Homo sapiens: one gene and its partner. The main gene of each other region encodes a partner of the protein of the gene in region 2 in a complex. Each region holds a gene or a part of one and is shown on either strand. Other genes may lie near its edges.

The links. The genes of interacting proteins can lie anywhere in the genome.
Region 1: PPP2CA (region 2) and STRN3 share a complex: the UniProt entries of both Homo sapiens proteins name them as parts of the core of STRIPAK complex.

What each region holds. Positions count from the first base shown.
Region 1 is NC_000014.9:31,019,880-31,023,379, reverse strand, and holds part of STRN3 (striatin-3), read left to right. Parts: intron 1-3,500. UniProt on the Homo sapiens protein: Calmodulin-binding scaffolding protein which is the center of the striatin-interacting phosphatase and kinase (STRIPAK) complexes.
Region 2 is NC_000005.10:134,198,574-134,202,073, forward strand, and holds part of PPP2CA (serine/threonine-protein phosphatase 2A catalytic subunit alpha isoform), read right to left. Parts: intron 3,449-3,500; coding exon 3,275-3,448; intron 2,502-3,274; coding exon 2,412-2,501; intron 1,935-2,411; exon of another isoform or gene 1,924-1,934; coding exon 1,762-1,923; intron 632-1,761; coding exon 513-631; intron 1-512. UniProt on the Homo sapiens protein: Catalytic subunit of protein phosphatase 2A (PP2A), a serine/threonine phosphatase involved in the regulation of a wide variety of enzymes, signal transduction pathways, and cellular events.

The sequences.
Region 1 (3,500 bases), on a different chromosome or scaffold from region 2:
GAACCAAACTAAAGGATCACATCTTAAAGCTCTTCTGTCTCTGATTCTTCCTTACCTTAGACTCAGGTAAAGCATTGTTAGTAAGGTCATAGGACAGTGGTTTCTTAACTTTTATATAACATGAATTACCAAAATTCCACAGACAGTCCATTTTCTTCAAGCCCTAGATCAATCCAGATCTCCAGAGGATAAGAGGCCTGCATATTTTTTAGAGTTCTACAAGTGATTCTTTCTTCACAGTAGTGCCTGTTAAAGAGAAAAATTACTACACTACACTTTTCTTTTTTGTAATTTCATAGTAGATTCATTAAAATCTTGTCATGGAAAAGACACTAGGATTTGCAAATTACTATTCCAGACCAGCTTTTGAAAACCCTGAAAATGGAAAATTCAGGAGATTCCCCCCTTAAAAATGAAGAAATCAAGTAAGTCTAAGCAAAATATCTCCTACTAACTTAAGGATCTTTAAGCAGCAACATCTATCATGTTACGACTTCTAAAAGTTAGAAACTGCCATTTAATCAGCACTATAACCTCATGAGGTGAGTATTCCTGTTTTACAGGTGAGGAGACAAATTTAGGTAGGTTAAATCATTTTGCCAAGGTCACCTAGCCATAAAGTATTGCAGCTGAGATTTGAACCCAAGTCTGTCTGATTCCAAAGCCTGTAGTCATGTTACCACTCTTGTAACCATTATGTTATACTGTCTTAGCTCTTTTTTATAGAGTGGAATCTGACTTGTAATTCTTCATCTAGTATTGCGTGGCCCACACCACTTGAGTACATTTCAATAAAGTTTTATTGAGCGCCTGTGATGCTGCTGCAAGGCATAGTTTATATATATTGCTAATGTGTCCTTATATTTTTCTTTATAGTTTGTATGTAGTAAGTGGATTTTGGGTATATACAAAATGCTTGTTTGCCAAGTGTAAAAATATGACATAGCTAATACAAGAAAATGTAGTCAAAGAGTTTATGTTCTTTTTTTTTTTTTTTGAGATGGAGTCTCGCTCTACTGTCGCCCAGGCTGGAGTGCAGTGGCACCATCTTGGCTCACTGCAAGCTCTGCCTCCCAGGTTCACGGCATTCTCCTGCCTCAGCCTCCCCAGTAGCTGGGACTACAGGTGCCTGCCACCACGCCCAGCTAATTTTTTTGTATTTTTAGTAGAAATGGGGTTTCACCGTGTTAGCCAGGATGGTCTTGATCTCCTGACCTCGTGATCTGCACACCTTGGCCTCCCAAAGTGCTGGGATTACAGGCGTGAACCACCGCGCCCGGCCGACAGTGATTTTTCATAAAGGTGTTCCCTTTGTTCTGGGATTTTTAGCCTTCATACATTTTTACTGTTAGGCATTTCCTTTTTCAGATGATGGTGATAATAGTTAAAAAAATTTTATTGATAGTATTAAGGGAGTCCACTACCTTGTGTCAGATTCCCTGTTTCTTTTTGAAGCCCTTGAAATGAAGTTTAGGGACCACTGATCTAGAATTCTCTTTATGCTCCTCCACTACCCATTAACCCCACTCTGTAGTCTGCCTTTTCGCTTTCTTCTCTCCTCCCTTCTAAACACTTCGTAGAACACTATGTTTTCTGTTCATGATTGACCTTCAAATTGCCAAATCCTTTGGCCTTATAAACCGTATGTACTTAACCAACACTCTGTTGTTAACAAATCCTTCAAAACTGTTTTCTTTTGCTTCCGCTCTGTTTTTCCTGTCATCCACTTATCACTTTTCTTCATATGTTTTCTTTCTTTTGTTCCCAGTTGTTATTATGTGGGGTTCTGGTTCTATTTTATGTTCTCACTGTATATTCAGAATCAGATTTTTAGCTACCATGTACCATCTTAATAATACCTAGCATTTATTTACTCTTTCCTAATTGTTATTTCAGTGCTTCAGTATTTCAGTATTCATTTAATTCATTCAGTATTCATTTAATTCTCAAAACAACTCAGTGAGGTTGATACAGGTATAATTGGTGTCTTTTTTTTATTTTTTCTGACACTGGCATATCGAGGCCCAAAGGTTAAGTAATCTATGCAACTAGGAGGCAGTAGAACTGGGATTTAAACTTAGACTGCCTGTAGAGGCCATGTTCTTAACCACTACTAGATTTTTGGCGTCCAGATGTCCCTTGTATTTCTAACTTCCGTTTAGTTTTTCTACCTCAAATTCAATACATCCATTCAGTTAATCTCAAGTGCCTGCCTCTTTCCCTTGACAAAACACACTTGCTCATTCTTTATTCCTTGCCACATTAAAGTTAACACTATCCTCCCCATCGCTAGTACTATAGAGGTCATTGAACCTTCCCCCTGCGTATGGCCTGTGAGTTTTATTGATTCCAGCATGATTATTTGGTGATATTTGAGTGCGATTTTGTGCTAGATCCTGGGTGTATAATGATGTATGAGACACAGACTTTGTCCTCAGGGAGCTTATACTCTAGAAATAATTTTTTTTTTTTTCAAGAGAGCGTCCTACTCTGTTGCCGAGGCTGGAGTGCAGTGGTGCCAACATGGCTTACTGTAGCCTCAGGCTCCCGAGCTCAACTGATCCTCCTGCTGCAGCCTCCCGAGTAGGTGGGACTACAGACATGGACTATCACACCAAGCTGTTTTTATTTTTAGTTCAGGTGGGTTCTCAGTTTGTTGCCCAGGCTGGTCTTGAACTCCTGGGCTCAAATGATTCTCCCACCTCATCCTCCCAAAGTCCAAGTATTGGGATTACAGGCATGAGCCATCATGCCTGGCCAATAAAATGTTACAACAAATTAGCAGAATGCTGAGAGAATAAATGGTGATAGGAAACCTGTATATGTAATGGAGTTTCAGATAATACCTAATATTTATTGAGCACTTTCTTTTTTTTTTTTTAGAGACAGTTTTCGCTCTGTCACTCAGGCTGGAGTACAGTGGTGCTATCTCAACTCACTGCAACCTCCACTTCCTGGGTTCAGGCAGTTCTCATGCCTCAGTCTTCTGAGTAGCTGGAATTACAAGCACCCACCAACACGCCCAGCTAATTTTTGTATTTTTTGTAGAGATGGAGTTTCACCATGTTGGCCAGGCTGGTCTTGAACTCCTGACCTCAAGTAATCCGCCTGCCTTGGCCTCCCAAAGTGCTAGGATTACAGGCATGAGCCACTGCGCCTGACCTATTGAACACTTTCTATATGGTTGACATTATTTTTGGTTCTTCAGTACATTTAATTCTCATAAAGTTCCTAAATGTATACTTCTAGATCTGAAGTATCGGGAATACCTAATTGTACAAAGAACATGCCAGTTGGAAGCTACAGCATTTAGCAGAAGTTCTAAAGTAGGAAAGAGCTTCATTTAAACTGTGAACTGGCCAGGTGTGGTGTCTCACGCTTGTAATCCCAGCGCTTTGGGAGGTTGAAATGGGAGGATCACTTGAGCCCAGGAGTTGGAGACCAGCCTGGGCAACAGTGAGACCCTGTATCTAAAAAAGAAAAAAAAAAAAAAGAAAATG
Region 2 (3,500 bases):
ACACTTTTTTGAGACGAAGTCTCGCTCTGTTGCCCAGGCTGGAACGCAGTGGCGCGATCTTGGCTCACTGCAACCTCTGCCTCCCGGATTCATGCCATTCTCCTGCCTCAGCCTCCTGAGTAGCTGGGATTACAGGCAGGCGCCACCATGCTGGGCTAATTTTTGTATTTTTAGTAGAGAAGGGGTTTCACCATGTTGGTCAGGCTTGTCTCGAACTCCTGATCTCAGGTGATCCACCCGAGCCTTCCAAAGTACTGGGATTACAGGCATGAGCCACCGCGCCTGGCCCCCTTAAACTCTTAAACCTCACATTTAAACTATGTATTCAGGCTGGGCACTGTATCTTATACTTGTAACCCCAACACTCTAGGAGGCCAAGGTGAAAGGATCACTTCAGCCTAGGAGTTCGAGACAAGACTGGGCAATATAGTGACACCCTCTCTCTCAAAATAAATAAACCAAAACCCTACATATTCAGTAATGCAAGAAAATGTTCAGGTAGAATTACTTACAAAGAGTATTTTAGAGTATCGTCAAGTTCCATGATTGCAGCTTGGTTACCACAACGATAACAATAGTTTGGAGCACTGAAAATCGTTACTACATTCCGGTCATGGCACCAGTTATATCCCTGCAAGGAAAAGGAGACAAAAATCTTACTTTACTCCCTCAATTCAACTAAATGTTACTTCACTCAAGAGAGAAAAAAATCTCTACTCATTCCCACCCCTGCCAAAGGGGCTTAAGAAATGTTAATGCTTTTTTTCTGGATGACTTAATAATCTCCTGTACTTTATACAACCTGTAAGGTACACATGTATTTATTTTCCCCCTAATTACAAAACTTGTTTTTTTTTTAGTACTTTAAAAAAAAAAAGGCTTTAACAAACAGCAGCAACCACCAAAGAATGAAATACTTCTCATGTATCTGCCTTGCTGTAAATGACAATGTCTCATTAGCCTCTTCTCTTGCAGTGGCCTTAAAACATGATTTAAGAATAAGTATTTAAGTGGCCATTCCCTAGAGAAGTAGATACTTAATCCTGGAGACCAGAACCTTACCAATTTTGTCAGTCACAGGTAAAGGCCTGTTAAGTTGGTCACTGCCCAGGAACAAATGCAATATGCCTCTAGGATCTCCAGCCTCATTTCCTCAAAGTCCATCCACCTGAATGCATGAGCTACTTTTGTTACTTTTTGTTTAGTATTGTTCACAATTTCTTTACCTTTAGCAAAGTCAGATTTTATTGATAACCACAGAGTTGTACTAGTATTAATCTAATTAGGACCTTATTTTAAAAATATTCTAATCAGTGTGCCATGTCAAGAACCTTTGCCTCTTTCCCTTCTTTCAAATCACCTGTAATCCTAGCATCCAAAGGACCACTTAAAACATTTTCGTGTATTTCTTTCCAGTCTCTCCTACATACATACATTAAATATACGAAATAACATTGGGATCATAAAATATCATACATGCACACCAACTCCCTATATCTTACTTTCCCACTCTTAAATCTCAAGTACTTCCTAGTCATTCAGATTTCTCTGAAAACATGTTAATGGATTCATTGTAATCAAAAGCTTGAGCTTTTAATTCTAGTAGTGTGCATCTACTGAAAAGGCTCAGGCTATAATGATAAACTCATCAGAAGGAATAGATGGAATTTCTCACAAATGTCATTAATTTAAAACTCCCTAATATCTTCTTTCCTTAAGTTTACTAAAAAAACAAGTCATATTTCAGAGAACACAGCATACCTCCATCACTAGCTGGTGAGCTCTAGACACCAACGTGAGGCCATTGGCATGATTAAATGTCTCAGAAATATCTTGCCCAAAGGTGTAACCAGCTCCTCGAGGAGATATACCCCAACCACCACGGTCATCTGGATCTGACCACAGCAAGTCACACATTGGACCCTAAAAAATAACTTCAAGTTATAAAATGCCTTTTACAAACATGGTTAACACATTATTTGAGTAATTCATCAGAAGCAGCACCCTAAGCCACCCTTTTTGAGTGATGTTTGTGGACAATGCTAATAGACTGTGCAGTTGAAGTCAAACATCTGCATCAAATAAGATGTATTTTCCAGCAGACTTTATGAGACACAGCTGACATCCATGGGACCCAGCAGCAACATGCCCTAATTAATCTGCCTATATTATGCAAATTTCAGAGTCTAAGACAGACAACCCAGGTCCTAATAAGCCCAGCTTCACAGCTGTTGTGATCTTGGCAGGTTTCTTAATGTCAGCTTCTTTTGAACAACAGGGCAGACAAGAGTGCTCACACCTCAAGTTGTTTTTGAGAATTATATGAGAGAATACATCTAATGAACTTACAATTAAACTTCTCCACTCCCTAATAAGTTTTCTGAAAGAATTTTATCAAATAAAAGTCATACCTCATGGGGAACTTCTTGTAGGCGATCAAGTGCTCTGATATGATCCAGTGTATCTATAGATGGCGAGAGACCACCATGTAGACAGAAGATCTGAAAAGAGTGGTTTAAAAGGTTAACCTCACCTAAAAAATTTGTAAACATTCTTGGCTGGGCACAGTGGCTCATGCCTGTAACCCCAGCACTTTGGGAAGCTGAGGCAGGAGGGCTGCTTGAGGCCAGGAGTTTGAGACCAACCTGAGCAACACAGCAAGACCCTGTGTCTCTACAAAAATTTTAAAAAATGAGCTGGGCACCCCCATCACTTGGCCCCTCTGGTGTTTCTGTGCTCTGCCTGAATGAGACTTGACTTTGCAGGGTTCATCTTTGCTCCAGCCCACTCTGAACTATTGAGTACACTCCTGTTCTTCCTAATAGACCATCGCTGTCACAACCAGACTCCACTTCAAACAGCTCCTTTGAGAAAACTTCTTGGATATCACTCCTGCCCTTTGCCAGAGACTAGTATCTTCATACTCATAAAATTTTATTGTAAGTTCTTTTGTGTGCACATCTACCTAGGCCAATAATTAGCTCCTTACATCTCCCAGACTTGTCCAAAAACAGTCTGAGAGGGTAAATGGGCTACATCACCCACCCCTGTGATCCCACCATACAGTTCAGTGCCTGATATAAAGAATAATGCACTTAAAAAAGTTGGACACATTTGTCAAATTAAATTTTTTTTAAGTTTGAATGAATGCTATCAATATCTATTAAAAAATATCCCCAAAGGGGTGTTAAGAGTGGAAAGAGTCATAAGCACCTGAACACTAAAGAAAGCAGATTCTCTGAAATAATCAGCAATGAGTTTTAGATCCACATACCTGCCCATCCACCAAGGCAGTGAGAGGAAGATAGTCAAAAAGATCTGTAAAATATTTCCAAACATTTGCATTTCCATATTTTCTTAAACATTCATCATAGAAACCATAAACTTGTGTGATCTGTCTGCTCTCATGATTCCCTCGAAGAATGGTGATGCGTTCACGGTAACGAACCTAAAACAATAAAATGCAAAACATAAACAACTAGCTCTTTCAAAAACCAATG